Linked DNA regions of Homo sapiens: all the other regions are linked to region 3. Evidence: fine-mapped expression QTL. A gene starts in region 3. Each other region holds a variant in brackets. All regions are shown on one strand. Distances are between the middles of the regions. Region 1 holds the start of LOC102723409 (a long non-coding RNA gene). Region 2 overlaps ARHGAP18 (Rho GTPase activating protein 18). Region 3 holds the start of ARHGAP18 (Rho GTPase activating protein 18).

Region 1 (10,984 bases), 150 kb before region 3:
ACAACCATCTGATCTTTGACAAACCTGACAAAAACAAGAGATGGGGAAAGGATTCCCTATTTAATAAATGGTGCTGGGAAAACTGGCTGGCCATATGTAGAAAGCTGAAACTGGATCCCTTCCTTACACCTTATACAAAAATTAATTCAAGATGGTTAAAGACTTAAATCTTAGACCTAAAACCATAAAAACCCTAGAAGAAAACCTAGGCAATACCATTCAGGACATAGGCATGGGCAAGGACTTCATGTCTAAAACACCAAAAGCAATGGCAACAAAAGCCAAAATTGACAAATGGGATCTAATTAAACTAAAGAGCTTCTGCACAGCAAAGGAAACTATCAGCAGAGTGAACAGGCAACCTACAAAATGGGAGAAAGTATTTGCAACCTACTCATCTGACAAAGGGCTAATATCCAGAATCTACAATGAACTCAAACAAATTTACAAGAAAAAAACAAACAACCCTATCAAAAAGTGGGCAAAGCATATGAACAGACACTTCTCAAAAGAAGATATTTATGCAGCCCAAAAATAGATGAAAAAATGCTCATTATCACTGGCCATCAGCGAAATGCAAATCAAAACCACAATGAGATACCATCTCACACCAGTTAGAATGGCGATCATTAAAAAGTCAGGAAACAACAGGTGCTGGAGAGGATGTGGAGAAATAGGAACACTTTTACACTGTTGGCGGGACTGTAAACTAGTTCAACCATTGTGGAAGTCAGTGTGGCCATTCCTCAGGGATCTAGAACTAGAAATACCATTTGACCCAGCCATCCCATTACTGGGTATATACCCAAAGGATTATAAATCATGCTGCTATAAAGACACATGCACACATATGTTTATTGCGGCACTATTCACAATAGCAAAGACTTGGAACCAACCCAAATGTCCAACAATGATAGACTGGATTAAGTAAATGTGGCACATATACACCATGGAATACTATGCAGCCATAAAAAATGAAGAGTTCATGTCCTTTGTAGGGACATGGATGAAACTGGAAACCATCATTCTCAGCAAACTATCGCAAGGACAAAAAACCATACACCGCATGTTCTCACTCACTGGTGGGAATTGAACAATGAGAACACATGGACACAGGAAGGGGAACATCACACTCTGGGGACTGTTGTGGGGTCGGGGGATGGGGGAGGGATAGCATTAGGAGATATACCTAATGCTAAATGACGAGTTAATGGGTGCAGCACAACAACATGGCACATGTATACATATGTAACAAACCTGCACATTGTGCACATGTACCCTAAAACTTAAAGTATAATAATAATAAAATTAAATTAAAAAAAAAACAAAACAAAAAAACAGAAACAAAAAAATAAATAAAACAAACTTGAATGGAAAAAAAGGTTTATGTGTATATATTTTGACATAAATAGACCATTTTTAAATATCATTTAACTTCTTAGGGAAAAAAAACTGATATGAAATCTCAAGTTAAAAATGGCTAAAAGAAAATTCTATTTGCCTAGTAATTCCTATGCATAAATCAACATGTTCAAGGAGAGGATGAGGATCAACATTATTTGTAACTATACCAACTTTCCAAGGACAAATAGTTCATAATTTCTAAGGAAGCCTTCTATAGTAATCATCTCAGGCTACCATAACAGAATGCCAAATGGATGATTTAAACAACAGAAATTGATCCTCACAGTTGTGGAGACTAGGAAGCATGAGATAAAGGTGCTGGATAATTCAGTTCCTGGTGAGGACTCTTTCCCTGGCTTGCAGACAGCTGCCTTCTTACTTTACCTTTCCTCCTTGATGCATACACATTAAGAAGAAGGGAGATCTCTCTTTCTTCCCATCATAAGGCCACTAATTCATGATGAAATCTTGCATATTAAAAAGAAAAGCCACTAGTCCTAAGAGACCCACCCTTATAACCTCACCTAACCCTAATTATCTCCCAAAGCCCTCATTTCCAAATTAACAAATGAATATTGGGGAAATAAAAACAGTTCATAACACCTTCTTTATTGAATAATAATCTCTCAGCTCAGAAGAACTCTGGAACACCAAGGCAAAAAAAAAAGGCAGCATTATGTTAAAATAAAAACATTTAAAGTCAAATTGGAAGAAATATTTATCATTGTAATAACAATGCTGCTGAGTTTGGTTGACTTATACATTATTTACTGCGGGCCAGGTGCTCTTCTATAACATTTCTATTCTCTATTATACATACTCATTCAATGTGCAAATATGATAAATCTAAGGGTCCTAAATATACAGTTTATATATTTGTTATAGAGTATATATAACTAGTACTGTAACAGAGAAACAAATAATATAAAAAGATATCTCCCCTGGTTTTATGAATTCACTAACAAACATATGAGACATTATTAGCCTCATTAGTTATCCATGAAATGCAAATTAAAACAGCAAAATGTCATTTCTTCACCCATGAAATTAATGAATATTAAAGAAAATGATGGTGAGAAGACATTGAGATTATCACTCAACTGTCATTGATGGAAGTATAAATTAGTATGACTTTCCTAAAAAGCAATTTGACAATATATGCAACAAGAGCTTTACAGATTTTTCTCCTCATCAAGCCAGTAATCATTTTCTGGCATACTTCTCAGAAATTAAAAAATGAATGATTGTAACAGCTGGGTAATAAATCCTTATATAAGTCAGATTGTTTCAAAAAATACAAAGAAGGACCTAATAATTTTGAGACAGAGATCTATGTTTTTTTTTTTTGGCATATAATGAACTTTTTAAAAATTCAAAAAACTGAGTATCTCTGAGTATCACTAAAATAATTGCAATTTACATTTGATTGTGAAAAAGTTTCTTGGTGTCTACACACATATAATTGAGAAAGAGGACTAAATTGATGCTGAATTTATTAGGAATAACATCTATCCAGTGATAACTAAATTTTTTAAAAACTGAAACCCTTTCTCAGAACCTAATTTTCAATAAAACTTAAATGTTTTATTAGCTTTATCAAAATATGTGATATATTTTTGTTTCATCAACAATAACTTCAACATATATACTTATTTTGCTGTAGAGAAACACAATTGCTTTGTATCATTGAATACATTACTTTAGGATAAACTTCTAAGGAAGAAAGTCTAATAAAAATAGGAGTTCAAGGGGAAAAAACGTAGAAGTTCTTGCTATTAATGATGAGCTTCCATGCATTTTTAAAAACAGACAACAGGGTATCAAATCACTATGGTATTGATGTTATTCTTGAAATAATTTAAAGTATTAGAATGTCCTTTGCAATTATTTAAACTTAGGATGAAAAATGTTAGATTTTAATGAAAAAAATATTCAAGATAATACATCCTTGTAATAATCACTTTAGGGGACATGTAAGTGGAAAACTTTGAAGAACATTATTATAGTGTACTTGGTGTATTGTTTGCCATCCAATAATTAGGATTTGGAATCAAAGCCTTCTGTAACACTTGTCCTAAGTCTTGTTTTACAGGGCGTCATATTTTTCAATGCATCTAGTATATGTTCCTTGGGTTTTGCTATATAAATTATAGTAGGCAGAGCAAAACTCTTATTATATGTGGAGTGAGAATCAGGGTAGCAGCTCCCAACCAAGGATATTTTCAAAAAAGCTGCTAATATGGAACAAGCTTTAGTGTCTCAGAGTTATCAGCCCTTCTTTAACACCAGCTCCCAAACACGCTTAATTTAAAATCATTTGATTTAAATGTGGAAAAGTTTCTTCAAGGTAAAAATCATAAAAAGAAAATTTAAATTACTGGTCTTCCTTAAGGACTGGCAAAATTCTTGGAGAAGGAGGCTTTTTCACCTTTAACCCAATTTTCTTCAGAAGTTACTCTGAGTGATCTTTTAGATACTTTAGCACAGTCAGTTTTCTTCAAAAGTTAATCATTGTAATATTTTAGATAAGAGGAACCAAGAAGCTCTTGAATTAACTAAAAATAGAAATACAGATAGTTCAGATATTAGAAATTAGATGTGAAAACTATTTTATGATCAAGTTTCCCTCTGCAAAATATCCAACTGGGGAAAAAAAGCCTTGAGAAACCTTATTCCTCTGCCTTTTCCCCCAACAATCCCAACTAAATTCATAGTTCCCAATTCCTATTTACATGTTGGCTTATGGCAATAGGCATCTGTTCCCATCACTCCAAAATACTCTAGACCTGCTCTCTAGGTCAGCCCTGAACTTATAGACTTCAGCTCCAGTGGTTTCTACTTAACTTTCATCTGGTTCACTTCTCTCAATTATTTGACATAGTTGATCATTTCCTTTTTGTTAAACCTGCTGTCAACCCTGACATCTGTGATTTTTACTCTTCTGACACTACTACTATGGTTTGAACTGTTCCTTCTAAGGTATCTCTCCCTTTATGCATCCTGTAAGTGGAGAAAGGCATTCCTCAAAGTTGTTCTTAGCCCTCTCTTGGCCCTTCGCTCTCAATGGACCATTTGTTTTGCTTCTATGGCTTTAAATATCACCACCCTGCAAAGTATTTTCTAAATATACATTTTCAAAGAAATCTTACCTAAAAGATGTCTCAGTTCTAACTGTTCAGCTTCTTCAACACTGTAAGCTCAACATATCCTCATCTTCTCTCCTTTCACACCCATAATACTTACCCCTCTCTTGCCCCAATCCCTTCATTTCAAATCAGTACTTCTCCCAGTTCTGGGAGTCAGTGAAAAGCACCATCATCTTCTAAACGTCTTTAAACTCCGCTCCCTCACTTCTCTCCATCCAATGGAATCATCAAATCCTTTTGACCTCATTCTGCAACATCTGTCTGCCCCGTTCTCACTTTTCACTGCCACAACCCTAATTCTGAGCCTCATCATTTCTGACCTGATCTAGTCTTCAATATTCTAACTGCACTTCCAGCTTAAGTACCACTATCTCCATTAACAATTACCCAACTAACAGTGTCCTTTCTCTATCTTCCCATTACATTTTACCCATACAATCAGTTGTACCCATATTCTGCTTCCCTCAAATCAAAGCCCATTTGCTAGGGATACATTCCCCATTAATCCTATTCACAAATCTAAATCCAATCTCCTTGTGGAAATGCACATACAATTGATTTTTACATCATCGCAACCTAACTTGTGGTATAGCACATAGCAGGCACTAAAATGCTAAGAAAAACAAATGGATAGCCATTTTTCTTTCAGAAAATTTAGAGTATTCCTTATCAAAATAACATTGTCTAATGAACTCGGTATACTTTGATGTATTATCTAGTTACACCTAACAGTTTCTTAAGAATAAAGAATCTTAATTCCTTTTTTTTTTGTATTTTTAATTTTTTTTGAGACTAAGTTTCACTCTTGTCGCCCAGACTGGAGTGCAATGGTGCAGTCTCGGCTCACTGCAACTTCCGCCTCCCAGGTTCAAGCAATTCTCCTGCCTCAGCCTCCCAAGTAGCTGGGATTACAGGTGCACACCACTATGCCCAGCTAATTTTTGTATTTTTAGTAGAGATGGGGTTTCACCATATTGGCCAGGTTGGTCTTGAACTCCTGACCTCCAGCGATCTACCCACCTCAGCCTTCCAAAGTGCTGAGATTACAGGCATGAGCCACCATGCCCGGCTCCTTCCCTCTTCTTAATATCATAATTAGCATGAGGATGAATGAAGCACGTCCTAGAACATGTTTCAGGATTCTTCGACAAGTGGAGATGCACAATCTCTTATTTAATTCTTCATGTTCTCAGTAAAACTCCTTTTGTTTTTTCCAAATATTTGACAAAAAAGTAACAAATATAAGAAGTCATGTTTACTTGCCAACATAATTTTAGTCTCCCTGATTCTGTTACTAAGTATGGATCTCCAAAATAATGCCTTAAAGACATAAACAAGATAGGGCACACAGCTCCCCACATCTCTTGCCTAAGACATTACATTCCTTAAAAAATAAATGAACTTGGTCCTTACCTGTTCTTACACATAAAATCATGCCTGCCAAAATCAACAATTATGCCCCCGCAAACTATAACCAAATATACTCTTAGGCCCAAATTTTAATATAATTTTATACATGCTGGATCTTCACTCCCTACATAAAAACTATAATTTAAGCTGCATTAAAAAAGTCTAACAAAACGTATCTCTAGACAATTTTTCCAAAATATAATCCTCAATAAGACTCTAAATAAATTTTAATTCTTTAAACATCTAGTATTTGTTTAGTCAACAATACAAACTGGGTGATACAAGCAACCAAAGCTAAGACACCCCAAGATTTTCCCCATTGAAATGAGAGTTGTGAAGGCACAAGTAATGATTAAATCACTCCCTTTTTGTGATTGTAACAAAGCTACACTCAGGTGAAAGAAAAATGTAACTGATTGACTGCTCAGAATTGGGCCACTGTCTGTGACTCTCCTTACGAACTTCCCTCCAGGGGAAATTCCTTGTTCACTTTGGCCCTTGCTGGAGGGGAAGGTGACTTGCAGCAGAGATTACACGAAAGCTGTTATTTTGTAAAGGTTACAGGAGATGCAACAAGAGGCAGCGCTGAGCTACCCAGGTGCAGCGAGAGGAGAACATCAAAAGAGGAGTAAAGATAGCACAGAGTGGAGCTGCTTTCTCTGTAGCTTATCTGAGCTCCTTCAGTTGAGAAATCAAGACTTGCAATCTCAAGATAAAAAGCTTGCTTGTGACAAAGCCAGTGTTTCTTGACTAAGTTGGAAGTACCATAGAAGCAGTTTTTCTTGCAACCAATCTATTTCTCTATACAGTATGCAGCTACATGTGAAAATAACTCATGAAACTCTTCCAAGAAACCTTAAGGACTTGAAGAAATGCTTGTATGGAAGGAGGGGGTTCTAATGTTTCATCTGGAATCCTTTCTACCAGAGCCAACCGACTGCATACACAACTTTAGGACACAAGTGAAAAAGAGAAGCTGGATGCCAAGTCCAGATTCCAAGATATGAGGCCAAGTGAAATGGGAGGGAAATTATTATTGCCACTTAATATGTATTAAATACAACATTTGAGAGATCACAGACCCAGAAACACCAGGGCAAGGAATTGGAACTTCTGCCAGCAGGAGCAGCTAACGCCAACTGAAAGAGCCCAGGATTGTCCCAAGAGTGAACAA[T/C]GTATCAAGACAGAAAATGAACTGGATAAGAGTTTTACTTCCTAGACCTTCTGGTCTGAAATGCAGGGAGAGAACTCTGTCTTTATGCCAGTTTATTTAACTTAAATGAAACAAATAATATTCAAAGTTGAGCTGAGCTCACAGAAGTAGAAAAAAGATGTTCTCACAAAATTATTTCTATGCCCTACAGTGGCACCGATACTCCAAGGAAGAGTTACTAGCACTGATTTCCAGGTGAGATAGTGTGGCACTGGAACCAGAACTCCAAATGAGATCAAGAGGGACATTCCATAAATATCCAGTAAATGACTCCTAACTTGGGGAAAGGAATGTTCATGGGGGATGCTATCAGAATTACCCTTCAAGGGAGGGCTGGTTATTTCTAAATATAGGTGCTGCCCACTCTTCCACCATTCTCTCATCTGTTTATTAGGATCTATTACTGATAGGTCTGTTACATCTTTTCTCTGTATTGATGAGAAAAATAGAATATGGCAGAATTTTATATATATATGTATATATATATATATATATATATTTTTTTAGACGGAGTCTCACTCTGTTGCCAGGCTAGACTGCACTGGTGCCATCTCAGCTCACTGCAACCTCCAACTCCCTGGTTCAAGCAATTCTCCTGCCTCAGCCCCCTGAGTGGCTGGGATTACAGGCACACACCACCACGCTCAGCTACTTTTTGTATTTTTAGTAGAGACGGGGTTTCACCATGTTGGCCAGGATGGTCTTGATCTCCTGACCTTGTGATCCGCCCACGTTGGCCTCCCAAAGTGCTGGGATTAAAGGCGTGAGCCACTGCGCCGGGCCTAGAATAATATGTTTTAAAATTATTAAGGTACAGCTCTGATAATATTGAGCATAATAACAAGTAATAAAAATACATTTATCAAATCCCATCAGGCAAGTATGCTGCTGAGCCCTTTGTATGGTTGTTTAATTCTAGTAAGCTGCTAAGAATATTCCTATTATTATCTTTATCCAAAGTATAAAATGAGGCCCAGGTAAGTAACTTGTCCAAGATCACATTCGTTAATCCAGGTAGTCTGGCTCCAGTATCCATATCATCTCTTCTCAAAATATTACTTAAATTTGAAAAAAAAAATGCTTAAAATTAAAAAAACTCTTTTGCCCAGCATCAAAGGCCCTATGTAAAGCACTTCCAACTCTTTCTTCTGCTAGTGCCTTATTTGCTCCCTTGTGTGTAGGAGAGCTCCTTATAAGTGCTGTCCATACTCACAGTCCCCAATTCTCATTCTCTTAACCCCGCTATAAGCATCCTTATCACTTTACCAAAACTGGTAAGTCTACTAAGGTCTACTAAGACCTCCACATAGGTAAAGCCAGTGGTTAACTTCTGCCCTTTAACTCATTTGAACTATAAGTAGTATCTGATACTACAATCACGCCCCCTGCAGTTGGCTTCTGGGACACCACTGTCTCTCAGTTATCTATAAGGTTACTTATTTTCAACGTCTTTGCTAGTTCTTTCTTTTCTAACCACTAATGTTGGGTAGCTCCAGGACCGAGTTCTCGGTAACTTTATTTATTATACCCAGACTCACTCCCTTGGTGATCTCATGCAAGGTCATGGTTTAAAAGTCCATATGCATGCTGATGAATCCAGCCCAGACTTCTCTCCTTAATGCCTGCTCATGTAACTGCCTACAAAATATTGCCACTTGGATATCTAACAGGCACTTCAAATCCCATACATCCATGACTGAACTCCTGAATCCCTGCTAACAGTACCTGATTTACCTCCACTTCCCTATTTCTCTTGTTGGAAAATCCATCCTTGCAATGGCTCAAGTCAAAAGTCTTATGGTTATCCTTGATTAAAAATCCTCTCGTATCAGAAAAAATCCTACAGGCTCTACCTTCAAAAATATATCTAGAATCTGGGTACTTATCACTCCACAGTTACTGCCCTCACCAACAGTGCCCTGTTTCACTCTCAGAAATGTCCTGATTTGAACAATAATCGCCCTAACACAAAGCCCTCCATGATCTCACTCCCCATGATTGTGTTACTTCTCTGCCCTGCCCTGTTACTATCACCGGCCCTGAGTCCACTCCAGCCACACAACCTTTGGTAACAGGCACATATCTGCTTTGCACCTTTGTTCTAGTTGTTTTCTTTGCATAGAATATTCTTCCAGGTATCTACATGGCAAGTTCCTTGAAGACTTGCTTCCAGTCTTTGCTTAGTTGTTAATTATTCAACGAGACTTCTTGTGGAATGCTGCAATGACCCTATCCCTCCACATCTTGTCCTATTTGCTCTGCTCATCTTTTTTGTCTCCATTGTACTTACCACCTTTCAATATGCTATAGAATTTTATTTGCTCATTAATATTTCATTATCAGTCTCCCTCCACTAGAATGTAAGGGCTTTTTGTTACTTTGTTCACTGATGCATCTCAAGGGTAGAACATGTCTGGCATATATGTAGGTGCCCAATAAATATTTGTTGAATGAACACATATACACTAAAAAGTCACAGTTCACAGTGGCTGGCAAGGTGGCCAAATAGGAACAGCTCCTGTCTGCAGCTCCCAGCAAGATCGGCATAGAAGGCAGGTGATTTCTGCATTTTCAACTGAGGTACCCTACTCATCTCATTGGGACTGGTTAGACAGTGGTACAGCCCATGGAGGCTGAGCTGAAGCAGGGTGAGGCGTTGCCTCACCCAGGAAGTGTAAGGGGTCAGGGAACTCCCTCCCCTAGCCAAGGTAAGCTGTGAGGGACTGTGCCGTGAGGAACAGTGCATTCCGGCCCAGATACTATGCTTTTCCCAGGGTCTCCACAACCCACAGACCAGGAGATTCCCTCAGGTGCCTACACCACCAGGGACCTGGGTTTCAAGCACAAAACCGGGCGGCTATTTGGGCAGACACCGAGCTAGCTGCAGTTTTTTTTTTTTCCGTACCCCAGTGATGCCTGGAACGCCAGTAAGACAGAACCGTTCATTCACCTGGAAAGGGGGCTGAAGCCAGGGAGCCAAGTGTTCTAGCTCAGTGGATTTCACCCCCACAAAGCCCAGCAAGCTAAGATTCAGTGGCTTGAAATTCTTGCTGCCAGAACAGCAGTCTGAAGTCGACCTGGGAGGCTCGAGCTTGGTGGGAGGAGGGGAGTCTGCCATTTCTGAGGCTTGAGTAGGCTGTTTTCCCCTTACAGTGTATACAAAGCTGCTGGGAAGTTCTAACTGGGTGAAGCCCACCACAGCTCGGCAAAGCCACCGTAGCCAGCCTACCTCTCTAGATTCCTCCTCTCTGGGCTGGGCATCTCTGACAGAAAGGCAGTAGCCCTATAAAACTCCCACCCCCATGGGACAGAGCACCTGGGGGAAGGGGCAGCTGTGGGCGCAGCTTCAGCAGACTTAAACATTCCTGCCTGCCAGCTCTGGAGAGAGCAGTGGATCTCCCAGCACAGCACTCTAGCTCTGCTAAGGGACAGACTGCCTCCTCAAGTGGGTCCCTGACTCCTGTGCCTCTTGACTGGGAGACACCTCCCAGCAGGGGTTGACAGACACCTCATACAAGAGAGCTCTGGCTGGCATCTGGTGGGTGCCCCTCTGGGATGAAGCTTCCAGAAGAAGGAACAGGCAGCAATCTCTGCTGTTCTGTAGCCTCTTCTGGTGACACCCAGGCAAACAGGGTCTGGAATGGACCTCCAGAAAACAGCAGCAGACCTGCAGCAGAGGGGCCTGACTGCTGGAAGGAAAACTAACAAACAGAAAGGAACAGCTTCATCAACATCAACAAAAAGGACGTTCACACAAAAACCCCATCCGAAGGCCACCAACATCAAAGACAAAAGGTAGATAAATCCACAA
Region 2 (10,984 bases), 22 kb before region 3:
AGGCAAGTAGTCCTACAGATCCAAGAGGAATCAAAGCATAGCTGTCACCCACACAGGATGCAAATGGCATCTCCTCATGGACAACTGGGTGCCATTATCTGTAGATGGTTACTGAAACACAGACTTCTGACATTAGTGTTAGTCGAATTCTAAAGTTTGATCTGGTAAAAATAAACTAAAACCCTAGAGACACAAAGCAACATTCTTATGTCCCAAAGCATCATCACATAATTAGCAAACATTTATTGACTGTCCACAGCCTGCCTGGCATTAACTAGATGTTGAGATTCAGGAATAAAGAAAACAACATGTTTAATGCCTTGATGAGTTTATAGTCTAAGATGGATAGAGTAACTGGACACACAGCTGAGAATAAACAAGGGACTGAACAATAAAACACAATAAGAATTTTTTTGAGAAAACTGCACACATAATGCATTTTAATCAAGGTAAACCATATAATACATTTTAATCAAAAGACATAGCTTGATAATATTACTATATTCTATTGATTGTTCTATTTCTTTCTTTCTCGTTCTGTTTCTCCTTTCTGTTTTTACCACCATGGTTATTCACAGACTTATATACTTCAGGAAAAAAAAAGTGAGAAATGTGTTTTGTTTTTTCTTTTTTTTTTTTTGTTTTTTTTTTTGTTTTTTTTGAGACGGAGTCTCGCTGTGTCACCCAGGCTGGACTGCAGTGGCGTGATCTCGGCTCACTGCAAGCTCCACCTCCCAGGTTCACACCATTCTCCTGCCTCAGCCTCCCGAGTAGCTGGGACTACAGGCACTCGCCACCACGCCCGGCTAACTTTTTGTATTTTTAGTAGAGACCGGGTTTCACCATGTTAGCCAGGATGGTCTCGATATCCTGACCTCGTGATCTGCCCAATTCAGCCTCCCAAAGTGCTGGGATTACAGGCGTGAGCCACCACGCCCGGCCTTGTTTTTTCTTTTAATTTGAGGTGGAAGGAACCAGCACAGGGTTGTTGGTTTTTTTATCTGCCAAGTACGGGCTTTTTTTCCCGTAGAAATGAAAAACTATATCTACTTGCATTAGCTTCATTTCATTAAAACATTGATCACACGTTAATAATTTGTGATCAAATTCATTTACGTATAAACAACCAATATCAGATCCTTTCATATTTTGATTAGCAGTATGAATTACAGAGCGGAATGATAACAAGTCAGAGAAGAAAAAAGCCCTGATGAGTCAAAAATGTAATGGAAAATAGAGGTTGGAGATGGCAAAATCTTTCCTTATTTCACAATTTTCTCTGGGGCCAGCCCAATTTACCTTTCACAACAATGCAATAACAAAGCAGCAAGGTGTATCTCTGCCTTGCACAAAGTGGATATGGTGAATGAGAACACCATCAAGAATCATAAAATGATGTGGGCATACCTGGAAAGTAACGTGGAGGTGTAACCACGGCGGGGGGGAGTTCTGCTAAGAAAGGAAAGGTGAGAAAACACTTGGGAGAAAATGGCTTTTGAAAATGTGAATTGAAAAGAGAAGGAGCTCAAAGCCAAGAAACTGACACTGACAGCGCGAGATGATTGAAGTGCAGATTAGGATTGAGTTGGGGCGTTGAAAAATAAAGTACAGATCTGAAAAATCTTGGAGAGAAAAAAATAACAAAGCTTAGTAAGAGCTCCTTGAGCAGGCCTGGGGAGAGAGATGTCAGTGATGACTCAGATGTCAGGAGTGGCAAGGCAGGCCAGCTGCAGGACTGCCAGTGACAGGAGGAAGTAGGAGAGGAAATGATGCATGCGATAGCTAAGAAACACTATAAATGGCTACATATCTGTGGTTTCTCCAGCAAAAATGCATGTGCAAAACGTTCTGTATTCAGTACCCTAGTTAAAATATAACTGTGGGGAGAGCAACAGATTAACTACACAAACTGTTGCTTTAAGATAGCATGCCTAGGAATGTGCATGGGAAAAAAATACTGAGGCAAAATAAAATTCAATTGTGGTTAGCTCTAGAGTAGTATTATATTAATAATATAAGTGACTTTTGCCTCCTCTTTTGTGCTGCTATTTTTCTAAATTTTCTCTATTGAGAATGTTGTCTTGTAGGGCAAAGTTTTGAAAGTTCCTAAGTGAACATGTTAGAATGCTGTGTGTTAGTTTGTAAATTTCATGGAAACACATACACACCAGAACGCATCCACCAACATTAGGTGTCATGGAGCCTGCGGCACACAGAGGGTCCTCCAAAACAGCATTAATATATCCGTAGAAGTCCATGGGAATCATCGTAGTTGGCCATCTGGTGACTTTCACGTGTTTAGCATATAATCAGAAGTACACAGATTGACCATACTTTACCCAAATCATGAAAGCCAAGAAATTTGTCTAATAAATAAATTACTTAACCCGAAGCCTAATACTACCCCAAGGAATTTTTCAGTAAGATCTGTGAAATGCCCTCTAGAATCAGAGAAGATATCAGCACTAAGATATTTGAGTATTAAATACAGTGTTTCATGATCCTAGAAAAGTGGAATGGGTACTTCCAAAGTAAACTGGGCAAATCCAATATGCAAGGTCACTGAAATAGAGAAACGTCATTACTGCTTTCTCAGACTCCGGCGGTGGACACTGGACACAGCGTAGTAATTAACAGGACAGCCTCTGGAACCAGGCTGCCAGGGTTTCAAAGCAGCTCCACCACATTCCTAGCATGTCACCTTGAGCAAGTTTTCTTCACTTTTGGGCCTCGGTTTCCCCAACTATAAAATAGAGACCATAACTATACCTACTCTCATAGAATCATGAAATATAGGGCTGGGCACAGTGGCTCACATGTGTAATCCCAGTACTTTGGGAGACCGAGGTGGGCGGATCAATTGAGGTCAAGAGTTCAAGACCAGCCTGGCCAACATGGTAAAAACTCATCTCTACTAAAAATGCAAAAATTAGCCAGGCATGGTGGCAGGCACCTGTAATCCCAGCTACTTGGGAGGCTGAGCTAGGAGAATCACTTAAACCTGGGAGCCAGGGGTTGCAGTGAGCTGAGATCACACCACTGCACTCCACCCTGGGCCAACAGAGCAAGACTCCGTCTAAAAAAAAAAAATTGTGAAATATAAATGAGTCAATATTCAAATATAGGATATTATAAAGCACACAATACCAGGCAAATTGAAGGTACTGTATAAAGGTTATTGTTACATATTTTTCATTAAAAAGAGATGTCAAAAAAGCCCAGCCTTCTCAAAAATTCTATTCAGACTTAAATGCAACCATTAAATGTGCTGATCACGGTGATCACTTGATAGTTTTTTCCATATTCAAAAATACAAGGCAGCTTTTTTTTTTCCTCTCCCACTTCCTCTTATTTTCCCCTCTGATCTACACACAAAAATGAATTTAGTTAATACTTGAGTTCCCAGAAGTGAGAAGTCCAGATGGTTTTCTCCCTACTCAAGCCCTCCTCTAGGAAACGAAGAAGTCTTTTTGCAACAACCCTGCCTGTATGTTGGCAACAACTTTCAAAATCAAAAGCAAGTTGACCCCACTGTAAAAGAAAAATGCTTCTTCAGCCCTTACATTGCCGGGGGCGGGCGGAGGGGCAGAAAAATCAGAAAAGAAAAGGAAAAGTCTGTGCTAAAGGAAAATTAAATAAATTTGGGTTTTTGCAAAAGACCCTAACACCGAGCTCTCCCGTGATGCAGCACAGCTTCTCGGAACCCAACTCTTACTATTTCCTCGGATCCCCTCTCTGGATAAAGGTTCTTTTCCCAGCAGGGCCGTTCATTTGCATGGTAAGTACCAACATAGTGTAAAATATGAACTCCCACGCTCCCAAACCCTCCTACCATGGCTGCCCTGTGTTCCTCAGCCACTTTCTCCTTTGCACTGTCCCCTACAGGCTGGGCTGCTCATCTCCTAGTGAGCTTGCCTTCCCAGCCATTCCCATAAGACTCTCTGCACATTCTACAAGTGATGTTCAGGGAGCATCTGAAAGCTTACCTCACCTCCAAATCTCACCAATCAGAGGAGCCTCCAGCCTACCACTCCACCAGTAAGATATGAGGATAGAGGTTCCCTGCGCAGGTAAGCTGGCAAAGACCAGACGCTTACCCAGAGCTGCCTTGGCTCCTCACAGGGCACCGACTTCTTCAAAGTTCAGTCTCTTCCCTAGGATACTGAGAAAGCCACCCACCTGGATATTCCAGAGAAATATGGGCTGAACTTCCAGAATCCTCAGATTTGCAACTATAGAAGTGTTTAAGTGTTACAAGTTATAAGTTATATGGATTTGTCTTTCTCCAGATTGATATATTTTTCAGGAGTCAGGGGAGTCATCCCGTCATCTTTCACTGAATTCCCTCCCTAATAAAACCTTTTTTTTTTTTTTTTTTTGAGATGGAGTCTCGCTCTCGTGGCCCAGGCCGGTGTGCAATGGCGCGATCTCGGATCACTGCAACCTCCACCTCCTAGGTTCAAGCGATCCTCCTGCCTCAGCCTCCGGAGTAGTTGGGATTACAGGCACCGGCCACCACACCTGGCTAATTTTTTTTTCTTTTTTTTTTCTTTTTTTTTTTTTTTTTTGTATTTTTGTAGAGACGAGGTTTCACCATGTTGGCCAGGCTAGTCTCAAACTCCTAACCTCAGGTTATTCACACAACTCAGCCTCCGAAAGCTCTGGGATTACAGGCGTGAGTCACTGCGCCTGGCCATAAAACCATTCTTTGCAAGCACAGTTTCATCCCTTTGAGATGACAGTTGGCTACAGATGTTGAACAGGTATGCAGGGACCAGTTTCTATGCACCCCACCTTTAGGACTTGCAACTCTAGTTCACGGGTCTCAGAGAAGTTGTAAGTTACCAGTTTCCAACATTCCAAATTACTGCAAATGCCAGAAACTACAAATGTTTGGAAATGCCAAGAGTCTGAGGATCTACTGACACAGCATATAGCTGAAACCTCACCCACATAGTGTTAAGAAAGCGTTTCCTGCCTGTCTGGGGCTGACAAACCACAACAACCCTTTTCTTCTTCCTCAGGCACCAAGCAGGACTCATCAGGACACCTGGGCTCAGGCTCAAACCCTATCAAAGCAGGGCTGTACTGAGGACGCACCTTCATTCTCTTCCCAGAACAAGTGAAGGAAATAGGAGAGGATCTTTGCTCTAGGAAAGCAGGCTTCAGACAGGAAGTGGCAACAATTCATACAAGGTGCCATTCTTTCCTCTAACCCACACCTTAACCTGTGTTGACCATCTCCCTCTCTCATCACAATATCTCTAGATTCTTCCACATACTTATTGAAAACTATGTTCATGACACGACAGAGGAGGTAACTGTCTCAGATAGCATAAGAAGTTCAATAGTAACCAAACATTTTTTTTTAAGTTATTTCCAGTGGGCCTGTGTGCTTTAGCTCACTTAAATCTTCACAACACCACTGAGGCACAGAGATGTTTTGTAACTCACCCACGGTCAGTTAACCAATAAGGGTAGATCTGAGATACAAAACCATGCCATCTCGTCATCGAGAGCTCCCTCTTCCCACTACAGTGTCAATCCATCAGAACAGTTCCAGTTCAGTAGACCCAGTGATCCATGATGGAGCAATTGGGTATTCTGAAGAGTGGGCAGTTCACAAGCAGACATGGATGAAAAGAAATCCCAATTCTTCAGTCAAGATTGACCTTTAAGACTTTCCACAAAGTGGCCTCA[A/G]CCTCTCGTTCCAGTCTTTTCTTCTCCTCCCCAAGAGCCACGTCAGCATCCTTACATATCAGCTCCCTTCCAAACTTCTCTCTCTTCAGAATGTATTTACCTTTTTCCCCTAAAACCCAATCCTATCCAACTGCTCCAGCAAGATGAAACCTGAAACTTTCTCTGATCTTCTTAGTTGGATGTAAGACGTCATTCTTCTGTAAACACCTATAGCAAGGTTTAAAAATGATGTAACATTATAATAATTATAACTTCCAGTCCTGTAACACAGATATGACAGTGCTTATCATCCTTAGTAGAAAACATGGGATAGTACATAAAGCACCTGTTAACAAACTCCAAGGAGTTACCACAGCACAGTTTTTAAAAAACACGTCTTATCAGCTGGGTGCCGTGGCTCATGCCTGTAGTCCCAGCACTTTGGGAGGCCGAGGCGGGTGGATCACCTGAGGTCAGGAGTTCAAGACCAGCCTGACCAACATGGTGAAATTCTGTCTCTACTAAAAGTACAAAATTAGCCAAGCATGGTGGCACATGCCTGTAATCCCAGCTACTTGGGAGGCTTAGGCAGGAGAATCACTTGAACCCAAGAGGCAGAGGTTGCAGTGAGCCGAGATCGCACCATTGCCCTCCAGCCTGGGCAACAAGAATGAAACTCCAAGTCAAAAAAAAAAAATATGCCTTATCATTGGTAGCTACTACACTGGCTAATGAAATCCAAATATAGCTGCTACCAGTGACAATGATTCCATATTTTGGAGATTCAATAGACTGATGCTAAGAGCACTGCATCTAACTATTGTCTAATATAAAAACTTCTATTTTCTTCCTGTCTCCTTGAGAATCTCAATGTCACAGAGCCAACAAGAGGCAAATTCTAAGTAATTCTTTAGCATGCAAAACGTATGTGCTATTACTCTTCTTTGTCTGGAATTTATTAAACAAGCAGAATCAAGGGAGCAAATCTGAAATTTCTGGAGGAATAAATGGGTGCTGCCACTAATGATCATCTCTGAGGCCTTGTCAGGCATTTGGGAACAAACTTACCAGTCTCCAGCCTGAAAGACACCAAGGAGAAACCTGACAGCTGAGAAGCTCTGATTTCCCTCTCACATGAGGATAAGAGAAACCAGCATGTATTATTTTTTTGGTTGCTTGGATGGTTTTGTTTTTTGTCTTTTTTGAGACTAAGTCTCACTCTGTCACCCAAGCTAGAGTGCAGTAGCGTGATCTCGGCTCACTGCAATCTCTGCCTCCCGGGTCAAGCAACTCTCCTGCCTCCACCTCCAGAGTAGCTTGGATTATGGGCATGCACCTTCATGAACGGCTAATTTTTGTATTTTTGGTAGAGACAGGGTTTCACCATGTTGGCCAAGCTGGTCTCCAACTCCTAGCCTCAAATGATCTGCCCACCTCAGCCTCCCAAAGTGCTGAAATGGGCATGTATTGTTTTTTAACTACCCCAAGAAGGAGAAACAGGCATACATTGCTGTGAATTTGAAAACTTCACCAGAGTACTTTCCTCAAGAATACAGGAATAAGAATCCACTTAAACATTATAGGTTCGCATTAAAATGCCCTTTCAGCATAATTGCAGGAATCCTTGTGAGTGTGTAAGCAGAATACATATATATTGACACCTTTCTGTTCCTCTATTTCATCACTCAGAAAAGGCACGCATTTGCTTTTCACAGAAACCTGGAAAACAGCATTCCTGGAAAAACGATTCTTTGTGTACCTCCCACACTCCTGGCATCCAGCCTTCAAATTTCCATTCTGAATTCCAAAACTACAAAGAGGTTTGGCCATGTAAGTAAACTTGTCATCTAATTTCTAAAGAAGGCTGATTCATTTTTAAGTAATTACATCTATTTAAATTATGAGTCTTATGTTAATCTTATGTTAATAAGCAGACATATAAGCACTTTGGCCAAACAGTCCGTTTATAATGTTTTATTCATTACAAAATCAACATAAATGTTCTGCCCATGTAAACGTGTGTGTGTGTGTGTGTGTATGTGGTGTGTGTGTAATGATTTGTATGGAAACTGTAAGTAAAAATGCACCAACAATGTATTCATAATACTTATATTATCTTCACATACATGCAGTGCCTAAAGTGTAACCGTTCACAAAAATGAATAAAACCACTGCTGAACTAAATATATGTTTATCAGAGAGAAACCTACAAATGCTATGCTTAAGATAGTGACAATTAATATCTGATGTGGCTTAAACAAAAGTGGTAGATTATTACCCTCATCTCAAGTCATCAATTATTACATACAACATATAACTTCTCCAAATGCAAAATGATTCATGTTGCAAATACAATAAAACATAACAATTCAGAGACTAAAGAGAGTTGATTGTCTACATTACTCACAAGTACAATTTTAGAATCTATAGATAAGGTTCATTTTCAAACAAATAATATTTCATTTACTTTTTCCCAATATGTAATGCAAATAAAATATTAAATACTATAAATATTCACTTTGAAGATATTCAGGATTAGAGGATACATATCAATAATACAGCATATATAGATTTCTAGCATTTCATATTCCTCCCCGTGAAAAGAAAAACATTTCATACTATAATTTCACCAGCTTAATAACGTATGTCACAATCTAGAAGATTCATGTGAGACCAAATAAATTTTATATGCTTTCACAATTTCAAATATTCACAATATTTCACAACATCTGAATAAAGCAAAATTTATATGCTTTCAAAGATTTTCTTAAAATCTTTGAAATTGAAAATTCATTTCAATGCTATCATTACTTATTCAATACAAACTACCTTTGAATTGTATTTTTTAAATGCTACTCGAATGCAAAATCACCCCATAACAATTGTTTTGCATCTCAATAATTTATATATTGGGCTCAATATAAGCTGATCCTTTGAGTAATACAATGCATGTAATATTATTGCACAAAATCCTCACAATTCAACTGGTTATTCAATCATTAATTTAGTCCACTAATACAAATGAGATGGGGAAGAAGCAGGTAGTATGTTTATGGGGGAAGGAAGGAAGTGAATGACCCCCAAACAGTCACCTCCAACATAAACACACACTTTCCCTAACCTTATGCCTTGATAAAGACTACACAGACTTTGGCCCCAGTTCTCACCAGCATGGGGCCCTTAGAAGCCTAGAGAACTCCACTTACAGAAAAAGAAAACTAGTACTCGGGGGTGGGAAAATATTGAATCATGCAGAAATGCTTTAGCATCTCCATGGAAAGATCTATCTTAATCTAAAAAGAATTCTGTGCACTTTAACATTTTGCTGAGTAAGCAGTTTTTTCCTAATAAAATTCACTTCCAATCATTTCTTCAAGATGCTTAGATTATTACGATTTCAGGTAGAAATTTGAAGAGTGGCTCTCTCTAAGCGTTAAAACTTACTGGCCAAGGGTTCACAGAACAAAGTTTTGTAAGTGACATTCTGTATTCGAGCGCTATCAATTAAAATTTTTTAAAAGTATACCTAAACAAGTGCTTCTCGGGCCACCTAACCAGGAAGCATAATCTCGGAGGTGTGAACTACCCAACAATGGCAATAAACAAAAGGTCTCTGGCTGATACTACATTCACATAATTGTGGAAGTCCTCACCCACCCACTGCCCAATCTGTTTTCTGGTTCCCAAAAGGCTTCTGAGGGGCAACATCTACTCCTCCCTGCAGCCATGTGCTCCAGGAAGTGCTATGTCCATGCATCTGACATCCCCGTTCCTGCTCAGCCCACACTGGCTTCTCCAGTCCTTGGCTGTTCTTGCAAGCCACCTCCATTGCCAGGAGTGCCTCAGGCAGTATCCTCTCAGGGGCCACCTGGGCTTGGCCTGGGGCTTCCTCAGCACTGACACAGCCAGCACCTCTGCAAAGTGACAGAGGAGGAGCAACTGCCCTTTCCTTCCATAATTGTTCTCCTCTTCCAGGCCCCTGCCCATTTTTCTGTTCCTGGCCCTGAAACCCAAAGACCCCCTCTTTCTTTGAATGACAACCTCTGGGCCTACTGGCCTAAGTCAAAGGCTGGGCAGCCTGGGCATTTCTGTGGATTTTGTTTTCAGTATCTTGTGAAATGTTTTACTCTTTACAAAATGCATGCTTCCTTCCTTTCCTCTCCTCAAAGGCAGGCTGTCCAGGGAGTTAAGCTCGCCTGAGCAGACCCTTTTCTCAAGAATATTCCATCATGCCTGGGTCCCCAGTAACACAGAGTTCATTCATATTTTCCTTCCCTCTCCTTGTCCTCCCTGCACTAGGTTGGCTGACTTTGGAAGATCCCTCCATACAAACCATTTGCCTGGGTACGGAGAAATGATATCATGTCAAGGTGGTTAAACAGGCACAGAATTTTAGGGGATAAATATGAAAGCATACAGACAAAAACATACAGACATCACCCACAGAACTCTACAGGGAAAAGGCAGCATGGGATGGCATCCTAGGAAAGCAGCAACAGTTTGAGTGGACACAGAATTCTATTTTTGCCAAGATTTGTAATTTGTGGCAGCAGGACATTTATGGGAACATGTCATACAGGGACACCTTGGCCTGGAAATCATCTATTTATAAAACAGGTCTAGGTTTAGGACCAAGAATAAGGCAATCCCCGTACCTTTGGCTTCCTGAGAACTTTCAAATTACTTCGCCTAAAAATGGAGAAGCTCCTCAAAGAGCTGCAGTGAGTTGATCACTTGGCTAATATTTATAAACCAAGAAAATCCACATGCTATGAAAAAGATCCATGACTAAAAGATTATTACAAGTATATTCTCTCCCACCAGCCAGCCCTCATTCATCACCTTCTCAAATATCCAGTAATTTAATCAAAGGCACTTTTGAACCACCAAATAGGTCATTTTATTTTAGAACCTTTGGGTCTGTGGTAGGCCAAGACTTTAATGTCCTTCTGTCCCCCTGAAATATATAAATGGCTTTACTACATGAAAAAGAGCTGTTCATCGGTAACTGTGAGAACTCCAAGCTGTTTCACACCCAAAGAGAATTGTCACTTGGATTTCAGTGGAAAGTTCTCATGCAACAGCAAGGGTACTGAAACAATCTAGATTGTTGGGGAAGACCTGGAGATAAGGAGACTCACAGTCATCTTACTATACTATTTCTAAGGTTAAGAAGATCTGATTCTTCATCTTCTAAAGAAAAATACAACCATTAATGCCAGCAGTGATGGTGGTGGTGGCAGTGGTGTTCTCAAAGCATATCTTGTTTCTGTGTCATGCTGGTTCCGGAAGACTTTTAATGCAT
Region 3 (10,984 bases):
AGCCAGGCATGGTAGCAGGCACCTGTAATCCCAGCTACTGGGGAGCCTGAGGCATGAGAATCGCTTGAACCTGGGAGGTGGAGGCTGCAGTGTGCCAAGATGACCCCACTGCACTCCAACCTGGGTGACACAGCGAGACTCAGTATCTGAAAACAAAAAACAAACAAAAAAAAACTGAGCTTCATGTCTCGCTCAACTTACCCCAGCCCCCTTATGCCCCTCTGCAAGTCCTCCCTATCTAAATTAATGATCACTTTAACATTACAAGTTTCTTAGGGCAAAAACCTTGAATCTTCAGGTATTCTCATTTGTCCATCTCCTACAGGCCCTAATGTCAAAAGATTCCACTGCTCACCCCGTTCATTACTAAAACAACTGAAACCCTGGCCCAAACCACCACTGCCTTAACCTATTAAGCAGTACCACTGCTTCTACACTCTATAATCAATATAACAGCCAGAGGGACCTTTTAAATGTGCTCTCTTCCTCCACTGCTCAAAACCCACTCCCTCAATGGCTTCCCATCTTACTTTCAGCAAAAACTCAAGTCCTCAAATGTTCTATAAGGTTATCAACTCCCACCTTGCTTTCTTCTTCCTCCCTCCTCCTTATCCTGACCCCTGCAGTCATGCAGGGCTCTTTGCTCTCTGGGTGCTTGGTTTCAGACTTACTCTATCTAGGCTTATGGCTTCTACACTCTCTACCCACTATCTGCCTTAAAAACTCTTCTTCTAATTCTTGCCCCCAGATATTTTGGGGCTCACCTGTCACCTGCTCAGGTCTTTATTTTCCCCTCCAGGCTACCCTCCCTGCACCCAGATGTTTGTCTGGTTTATTTCCCCCCATTACAACCCCAGTATTTAAACAATTGCCTGACACACAGTAAGAGAGAGCTCTTATATGTGGAATGACTGAATGATTATGCTTGCAGAACCAAGGAATGGGTGAGACATGAACAAGTCAAGAACTGAGATAAGCTTATAAAGATGATAGTCCTCTTCCATTTGGCATGCTGGGCAGTAGTAGTTCTTAAAGCAGAGGAAGGAAGCATGGAGACAGGAGTGAGTCCAGCTGCCAAAAGAGGATCCACCCACATTCTATCTTGCCATAGAGTCAATATTTGCAGACCTCAATGCCCATCAATACCCCCCAAGAAAGGCCTGGTATAGGCAATTGTTACCAGTTCAAATCATAAATGGTGCTATGGATCAGGATGATATTTCCAAGGTCTTTCAAACTTCAAAGGCCTAAACTTTTACATTATGGTTCATTCTCAAATATGTCATTTTTTAAGCATATGGATAATGCCCATGTTTCTTAACACATGACAAAATAATATTCAGAAAAACGCTTCTGAAACAAGGGAGAATATTCTATATCCTGCAAAACTCAATCCTTTCTTTCCTTTTCTTTACCTAGTATTAAGGAAAGTAGCAGCTAGCTACAAACCAGACACTCTTCTATGGGCTTGACAGAGGTCATCCCACTCAGTTGTCTTAATCAGGTGAGTAATATTATGAAGTTCAATTTATGGGTAGAGAGATAACTCCTCCAAGGTCACACTGCTAATGAATGAGAGAGCTGGGATATGACCCCAGACAGGTTGGCCCCAGAACCCAGGGTTTCTGGGTTTATGTCACCCCTGTGTAGTGCCTCTTGTTTCTGCCTACCCAATACCAATGGCAAGTTGGGTCAACAAGACCTTACATGATGAATGCCATACATTTATTCAGAGAAGGCATAAAAATATCTCACTCATCAGTCCATTCAGTTAGCTAAGGAATTAAAAGGCCCAATAAAAAAGGTTACTTGACATTCATATTAAAATATTAGCAAAAAATATGCAAAGCAAACAACCATTTCTCTTAAAATGGGAAGGTAAGAGAGAACAGTAAGAATAGACAAAACACAATATTCTTCGAAAAAATTCTTTTCAAAACTAAATATTAAGAAGCCTGCTTGAAAAACAAGTAAACAAAGTCTTATAAATATAGCTACTCATAAAAAGTGGTTTCCTTTGGAAACATTCAACTGTGTACAAGTCGGCCATGACAACTAATGTTAACATATTTCTTCAAATCCTCATGTTTTGAGGAGGAAACATACAAAAGAAAAACAGGATTCTATAAAGGGAGAGGCTCTAACCAGGAGTGGGAGGAATTCCTTAATCTGACATTCAATGACTGTTTTCTGATAAAGAGGGATAATGGAATGGAGAAAATTTAGCTAACAAATTACTTCCAAAAATATTAATTCCCTACTATCTCAGCTTTTCAAAAGACCAAATGGTAATAAAAAAGGACATGGAGCCGGGTGCAGTGGCTCATGCCTGTAATCTCGGCACTTTGGGAGGATGAGGTGGGCAGATCATCTGAGGTCAGGAGTTCGAGACCAGCCTGGTCAACATGGTGAAACCCCGTCTCTACTAAAAATACAAAAATTAGCCAGGGGTGGTGGCACTCGCCTGTAATCCCAGCTGCTTGGGAGGCTGAAGCAGGAGAATCACTTGAGCCTGGAGACGGAGGTTGCAGTGAGCCCAGATCGTGCCACGGCATTCCAGCCTGGGTGACAGAGTAAGACTCTGTCTCAAAAAAAAAAAAAAAAAAAAAAGACTTGGTATGGCTAGGCTAAAAATCAAACACTTTCAGGCTGGGCGCAGTGGCTCATGCCTGTAATCCCAGCACTTTGGGGGGCCAAGGTGGGCAGATCACCTGAAGTCGGGAGTTCGAGACCAGCCTGACCAACATGGAGAAACCCCGACTCCACTAAAAAAAAAAAATACAAAATTAGCCAGGCGTGGTGGTGCATGCCTGTGGTCCCAGCTACTATAGAGGCTGAGGCAGGAGAATAGCTTGAACCTGGGAGGCAGAGGTTGTGGTGAGCCAAGAGTGCGCCATTGTGCTCCAGCCTGAGCAACAAGAACAAAACTCCATCTCGAAAAAAAAAAGGAAACAATTTTCAATAAATACGCTAAGTCATACACATATGTATAAATGGCATTATAAAGACATGAATTCATCTCATGAACTAAATATTGGATTAAATATTTCAAAGAACATATTACTTACAGACAAAATCTTGTGATAAGAAAAGTTATACTTCCGTGCTATCTTCTATAATTTTTAAATGGGTAGGAGGAAATGCAGAATCTAATTTAGCTTTTATTTTTTATTTATTTATTTATTTTTTGAGACAGGGTCTCACTCCCTCACCCAGGCTGGAGTGCAGTGGCGTGATCTCAGCTCACTGCAATCTCTGCTCCACCAGCCTCAAGTGATCCTCACACTTCAGCCTCCTGAGTAGCTGGGACCACGGGCATGCACTACCATTTCTAGTTTGTTTGTGGTTTCTTGTTTTTTTTTTTTTTTTTGTATTTTTGGTAGAGCTGTGGGGGCGGGGGTCTTTTTTTTGCCCAGGCTGGTCTCTAACTCCTGAGCTCAAGCAATCCACCCACCTCAGCTTCCCAAAGTGCTGAGATGACAGGTGTGAGCCATCACACCCAGCCTAATGTAGCCTTTTTAAGAGTTTTGTTTTGTTTTTACTTTTTGGAGAACTTCTTTAAATAGGCATCAACCATCAACCTTGCACCTTGGAGCAGCTTCCCAGGGCTTAAAACAACACCTGACCAACCCAGCCAAAGCCAAAGCCAAAGTCCAGTTCACCGCCCCGAAACCACTATCACCATTCTTAGGTGGTCACCGAGGACCCCATCCCACCTTCAAATCCTCCTTCCTTCTATCCATCCCCTCCCCCATAGCAATTACAGTATCTCAATCCTTTCAGGCTAAACAGGGTATCTCCCAAAACAACAACAAGTTTATCTGATTCGTTAGCCCTTAAGGGTAAAAGCCATTGAAAACTAGCCCTACTCCCTCCTTCCTCCCTGCCCTCAAACCAGGCTCCCATCTTCTCCGGTCAATATCAGGAACGATCCCTAGAACTAATTCAGTGGTGGGAAGTTGGGTCTGGTATGGGCAGGCTACGTGACAGCCAGCAAAGGAGCTCACCTGGAGCTGTGGCCCCACACAGGGCACTTGCCGTGTGGGCAGCTGCCCACCCTGCCACCTTAGTGCCTCTTGGTTCTGCTTCAGCCTAGGCAGAGAATGATCTGATCCTCTCTTATTCTCTCAACCCACTCAAGTATGGGCCACCCACACTGCAAACACAGAATAATGAGTCTCCAGAACTGGAGATGCAGCCCCAGACAAAGGCCTAGAACTCCAGACCTTCCAAAAACTTAACTAATCCCTGGGGTTTGAGTCCTACGTGAAAATGAGAGGTTAGGACTCAGTCCTTAAGGTCCTTTCCATTCTCACAATCAAGATCCAAGATTCAGCTCAGGTCCTCAGGCCATTCAGCCTAAAGTCGGAGAATGTCCTGAGCTTGTATAATTTTGGCAATTTTGACTGACATGTGGAATCCAAGTTATGGCTGGGTATGGGGTTGGTGTTGCAGGCTGCTTTACTGCTTAATGATTACTAATACATTACAGAAAAATGGATGAAAACACTTCAAGATCTCTTGATTTAATGATTTAACATTAAGTCATTTAAAATGATGGAAAATGAAATGGTAACACAGCTAAGGCACAAGCACCAAATCTTTTTTATCTTTGGAAATGAATTCATTCAATGAAATACATACTGTGGATGCTATGTGAGAAACAGTTCCCGTCAGCTGGGAGTCTAACACTGAGTATTACAGCCATTCCTTTGATTTTTCTCCCTCCCTCATATTTGGAGATTTTAAAACAAATGAAAGGCAGCATTATTTCAGCTTAAGGCACAGGCATAAGTCACATAAGAACAAAGAAGGTTTTATTATCACATTAAGCATTGAGGAGGAAATGTGCTTACCGATAACTAATTTAGTGTTCTAGGCTATTAGGTTAGTATTTGCTTCTTGCAATCTTCTAGGCCAATATTTACTATTTATATCTTGATGGAGGTAAAAATGTTCAGCTAGTGAGAAGGTCATTAAGGAGAGAAAGAAAAAAAAAAGCCCTTGGAAAATGGAACAAAGTACACAGATAGGGAGAAAGGTACCCTTTGCGCCTCAGTGGTCTATAGAACATTTGCCCTCTCTGCCTATAAAGTGATTTAACATTAACCACATTTCACTCCAGCAGCAGAGTGCTATCTCCTGACAAAAACTCCTTTTTGAAAGCCTGGGGGAAAAAAAATCCACATACACAAAAGAATGTGAAACATATTGCCACAGGCCAGTGTCTTGGGCTTTTTGCCTAAGAGGTTTGCTTTCAGCAAAGAGAGGGGGGAAAAAAAACACTCTAACAACAACAGCTTGTACAGTACAGTGAACAGCCTCCCTGCTTTTTGGCAGACTTTCCCAGCGAACAGTTCCAGTGGCAGTGCCTTGAGCCCATTCAAGAATTCCATTTCATAGGAAAGGAAGTGTTTCAGATAGACCTATTTGATCTTTCAGCATGTGCAAATGCACCTGCTAAATAGCTAGTCTGACAGCCCATATAGCCCTCTCCCCAGTTCCTTCTTCTCTGTCTTCACCAGTAATCATATGGGTTATTTCAGACTTGGACTAGGTGAGATGAAAAGTACATAAAAATCACGCCAAACGTTGCTACTGCTGCTGCACGAGCTCAGGCTCGACGTGCAGATGGAATTCCCTTCTCCCCACGCCAACTTCCCTGTCACTTTCTTCCTGGAGCAGGTAAGAGGGTTTTGTTTTGTTTTCAGCTTCCGAAGGCTTACCTCGAGGTGGCTTCCTCCCCTGCCTTTGCATGGCTGTTCCCGACGGTCTGGTCCTTGCCGCTGGGGTGGTAGGCTGTTAGTACCACTCCCTGGGAACTGGAGAGCCAGCTCATGGTGAGAGAAGGGACATACTTTCTGCGATCCTGACACAGAGAAGGGGAAAGAAGTTCCTGTCTCGCCTGGCAACTCGCTCATTAGCATTGGCCAGCTCCTCCCCGCAGGCTGGCGATTCACACGGGGAGGGGCGGGGTCTGTCCAGGGAAGGGCTTCCTGCCTCTCCAATTAGAAGCTGCAACTCACAGCATGGTTTCAACTCTGGACAATTGCACTCTGGGCGGCTTTGGTTAAAGGAGGCGAAGGGTGGAAGCGACGGGTTGCACCCACCCCCAAGTTAGTCTGATCAGATTAAACTGCCAGAACGTATATTCAACTCATCACTGTAACTACAAGCCGTCTTACTTAGGAAACCATGAGTTGCTGCCAAGGCTTTTTTTTTTCCCTCCCCAATTCCTCTATCTTATAATTTCTGCTACTTAATGTAACATGAGTAAAGGCATTTCTTAACCCCTTCATGTTCAGCGTTAAAATTAGCCATAGTAAAAAACAACGAACCCGCGGCAAAACTCTGCAATCCAGACGACGAGAAAGGCTTGATCCTTGTGTCCGGTTAAAAATGCCCTCATAAAAATTGTGTGTCCTGGAATGTCGTCGTCTTTCACATAAAGCCAATCTCAAATATACGTCTTGTTTTAGCAAAATATTTTTCAGCACCAAAAAGGGATAGACCTACCAATGCTCTGTTAAGTGTTATTGCTGAGAACAAGAGAAGTCCCTGCCATTTGTTGAGCACCTACTATATGCCAAGCTCTCATGGACGGGGGTTTCACATGTATTATCTCATTCCATTCAATTCTCTCTCTCTCACACACACACACACACCGTACAAGATAGGTATCACTATCATCTGTGTTATACATAACACAAGGAAAGTAAGGCTGAGGGACGAGTTAAGTAACTTCACTAAGATAACACAGTTGCTAGTGCCAGAAGCTGGATTTGAACAGAATTCTAGGCTACATTCCTTTTATTTTTCACCAGTATGCTCTTCTTTGTTTTGCAGATTAAGAAACAAGATCAAAATTATCATAAACACAAAAGACAGCTCTGTTCTTTCTCCCCATCTCCCCTCCAAAAAAAAAAATCACTTTTTTGGTTTGTTTTTGAATCAGGGTCTCACTCTGTCACCCAGGCTGGAGTACAGTGGTGATTGTAACTCACTGCAGCCTCAACCTCCCAGGCTCAAGAAATCCTCCAGCCTCAGCCTCCCCAATAGCTAAGACCACAGGCATGCACTACCACGCCCAGCTAATTTTTTTATGCTTTGTGGAGAGGGAGGGTCTCACTGTGTTGCCCAGGCTGGTCTTGAACTCCTGGGCTCAAGCAATCCTCTTGGCTCAAGCTCCCAAAGTATTGAGATTACAGGCATGAGCCACCACGCCTGGCTTCTACTCTGACATACCCAGTAGTCTGAAGGTTTTTTTAGATTTTTATGATTCATTCAACTCTCTAGAATTCCTCTTGAACAAGTTTCCAATTCCATCATTACATAAACTTATTGCTTATACCTTATCATTATTTAAAACAGTCATGAAAAATAATTTCTTCCTCCTTACATACTCTAGAAGTATCTGAAATTTATTTTTGAACCCTCTTTCTTATAATTTACAAAAGTCTTCCTTAAAAGGAATTTATATCTTCCTCCCTCCCCCCTGCACAACTGCTCAACCTTCCCATTTCCACTTCCATAGGACTTTACTTGCTGTCTCCTTTTTATCCCCATGACCTCAACCACCTCTGGATCCTATAATGCAGTCTTAGCTCCAATATTACAACAGCCCTTTTAGCTCATCTCCCTGTCACCTCCTTTAAATTGCTTTGACATTATGATCACACCCTGGCACTCATGATCCCTCTCCTCGCTTAAAAACCTTCATTGGCTCTCTATTGCTAACAGAGCCAGTTCCAGGCTTTTGAGCAGATCACTGGGCATTCCTGCTACCTTATACATACAAGTCTTTCCATCTGCTAGACACAATCTTTTCAGGTCCTACTATGATTCTTTTCTCTTCATCTGACAGCTAACTTAAATTTTGTACCTACTGAGCCTTCAGTAAACACTGAATGGAGGAAAACCTGAATGAATTGAAAGTATCCTTTAAAACTCTACTAAATTTTTTTTTTTTTTTGAGACAGAGTTTCGCTCTTGTTGCCCAGGCTGGAGTGCAATGGCATGATCTCGGCTCACCACAATCTCCACCTCCCAGGTTCAAGCGATTCTCCTGCCTCAGTCTCCCGAGTAGCTGGGATTACAGGCATGTGTCACGACGCTGGCTAATTTTGTATTTTTAGTAGAGACTGGGTTTCTCCATGTTGGTCAGGCTGGTCTTGAACTCCCGAACTCAGGTGATCCGCCCACCTCGGCCTCCCAAAGTGCTGGGATTACAGGCATGAGCCACCGCGCCCGGCCAACTCTACTAAATCTTTATATTAAAATTGGTAATATTAGATAAGCGGTTCCCATGCACATACCAGTGCTAACCTATGAGGAAATGTTCATCAGTTCAGGCAAAACAAAAACTATAAAGAGAGGGAGGCAAAGATTAAAGTAAATTAGAATATATGTGTTTTGTCTTTTCAGTGTCCTTACATGGAAAAAATGTTAATAACCAGCTCATCCACCCCTCCTTTTTTATGTAGCTACTCTGAAATGCAAACATATGGGAATCACTATCTTATACAATTATTGATGGTAATCACTACATTATCTTTTGGAAATTCTTTTCTGTTTCCCTCCCACCTTTTTCTCCCCCCTTACTTCCCTCTACCTCCCTTTTTATTATCTTCCTTTTTTTTCTAGTTTTCCTTCTTCCTTTGCTATGTCTTTAGCCTGTCAATGTCATCCATGCCCATTGGCAGCCACGGGCACTGCATCTCTCATGTGACAGTTTGCGATGAAGATTTTGTCCAGTTATAGCCAAAACAATTATTTAGTTATATTTTTGCCTAATTATGGTCTTTTCACTTGTTTAATAACAAATCACAATGTACAGGTTGAAATGTAATTGTTTTACAATGTCAAAATAATATTTGGGTTTGCAATATCCACCGTTTTTAATTTCTGTGAGGCAGAAAACCAAATGTGATACAAATTGATTTACATAGCTTAGTACATAAAATTTGAATCCTTCTAATTTAGCTCTCAAATACCTGAAAATCCTCTGAGCTTTTTCTCCTTTCCTCCCACCAAGCCCTGTTGCTACTGGTCGAAGGGTATTACCTATCACAGGCAGAGAGCTGGTAGGACTGTGGCCTGGTGTTCATAGCCTCAGATACATGCTCAAGTAGATTAAAAACAGTTTTCAGAATTTTCCCATGTCATCAAAGAAGCAAACCTAACTACCAGTGTGGTCTCTTAAAAAGCTGTTCTTTGGGAGGCCAAGGTAGGTGGATCACCTGAGGTCAGGAGCTCAGGACCAGCCTGGCCAACATGGTGAAACCCCGTCTCTACTAAAAAATACAAAAATTAGCCGGGTGGCGTGGTGGTGGGCACCTGTAATCCCAGCTACTCAGGAGGCTGAGACAGGAGAATTGCTTGAACCCAGGAGGCGGAGGTTGCAGTGAGCCGAGATCATACCACTGCACTCCAGCCTGGGAGACAGAGCGAGACTCCGTCTCAAAAAAAAAAAAAAAAAAGAAAAAGAAAAAAAGAAAAACAACGACAAAAACAAAAACAAAAAAAAAAACCTGTTCTTATTTCACACTGTAAACTGTACTAAGGTTTAGCTCATGTCCATCCCTTATACCATTATCGCTCTTTTGCAGAGACAAATATTATGAAAAAAAACAAAACACTTTTTTACTCCTTTCCGCAACCATTTTAAACACACACTGAGAACCTCATGACCTTGAAGATGTTAATATTCCCAGCTATTGAGTGCGTGCCAAACACTTTCCTGTTATGAAACATCTTAAAAAGTAATTAACAACATCAAGACAGTTTAAACATTCATTTCATTCATTCTGTTTAAATGAGGTGTACTAGATGACACAGGAAAGGAAAAGGAAGCGGTAATTTATGTACCCAAATAGGTTGTTAAAAATAGGGTGAAGATGGTACTGCAGTCTCTGACAATTTGACACCCATGTTCAAAAACAATGAAAAAATTTTTCTTCAGTTCAGTGCTAGTGGTAGCAAAGAGTTTATTAGCTGGTTTTTATATGTTGATTTAGGAGCCTATTTAGTATTAGAAGGAATTGTATTAGAAGAGTGCCATGCAATGGAATCAGCATATAATTTATCAAATTTTTCCTGAATTGGTCTAGTTCTCTTAAAAAAAAAAAAAGAATTAAAGGAGAATATGTACACACAATCTCTATATGATGATGAAAATCTACATAGGGACAAAAGCCATGTGAAAATGACCTTCCAAATGGTAAAATTAAACCCAATTTTCAATATTATAACAAGAACTTGAATAAATTAATCAACTGTGAAGTTAAAGTTTTACATAGGTGATAAAGGCTAGACATATGAAGCAGGATTGACTAATGAAGAGGAAGAGTTCTTAACATCCCTTACCTCATGTTTTATCAGGACCTCGTAGGAATAGTTCTTGTCAGCTTACAAAGTTAGCTACCTCTGTGCTAGGGTACTATGACTGAAAATTATTCCATATACAGAATCTCAAACTATTTCCTTGGGAATTACACTCATTGTTATTAATTCTGTCTCTGGAACAACAAGAAATAACCCTTTTCCCTTTCTCTGGACAGCTCTAAAAATGTCTACGTTATTCTCAAAGTTATTTTCTTAACTGCTCCTCCTGCGAGAAAATACTAGCCATGCTTGGGATAATTTGTAACTGCTATTGCCAGAGGCTAATTTAGGCTTTTCGGCAATCATTTAGAAAAGATGTTTCTTACAAATAGTTTATTACCAATAAATAACAATAGCTAATATTGAGTCCTTACTCTTCGCTAGACATGGTATACATGGTCTATCATTTAATCATCACAATCACCACCAGGGATAGAAATTGGAATTACGCTCACTTTAGAGATGAGGAATATGAGGTCATCCAGTTAGTAGGTGGCAGAACCAGGACATGTAAACCTGGGTTTATGTGACCTTGGAGCCTGAGCTCTTAAGCATTATAAAGGTTACAGCAGTCCTAGAATTGACATCATTTTATTTCTGA

The links. PIP is the estimated chance that this variant, and not a neighbour inherited with it, causes the effect. A credible set is the group of variants that fine-mapping cannot tell apart.
Region 1: its variant is the best candidate, but not a certain one, in a credible set for the expression of ARHGAP18 in whole blood (INTERVAL, PIP 0.74).
Region 2: its variant is the best candidate, but not a certain one, in a credible set for the expression of ARHGAP18 in whole blood (INTERVAL, PIP 0.74).

The regions. Positions count from the first base shown.
Region 1 is chr6:129,559,020-129,570,003 of GRCh38, forward strand. It overlaps LOC102723409 (a long non-coding RNA gene), which reads right to left and starts at 10,547. Exons shown (of 8, transcript XR_001743860.2): 1 at 1-10,547. The variant T/C (reference allele first, on the strand shown) is at 7,135.
Region 2 is chr6:129,682,429-129,693,412 of GRCh38, forward strand. All of the region lies in intron 1 of ARHGAP18 (Rho GTPase activating protein 18), which reads right to left. Among named protein-coding and RNA genes, the nearest start is that of ARHGAP18, 22 kb to the right of the region's middle. RefSeq lists an enhancer at 1,616-1,910. The variant A/G (reference allele first, on the strand shown) is at 5,701.
Region 3 is chr6:129,704,298-129,715,281 of GRCh38, forward strand. It overlaps ARHGAP18 (Rho GTPase activating protein 18), which reads right to left and starts at 5,880. Exons shown (of 15, transcript NM_033515.3): 1 at 5,727-5,880. The coding sequence starts at 5,839. RefSeq lists enhancers at 318-397, 418-477 and a silencer at 6,154-6,233.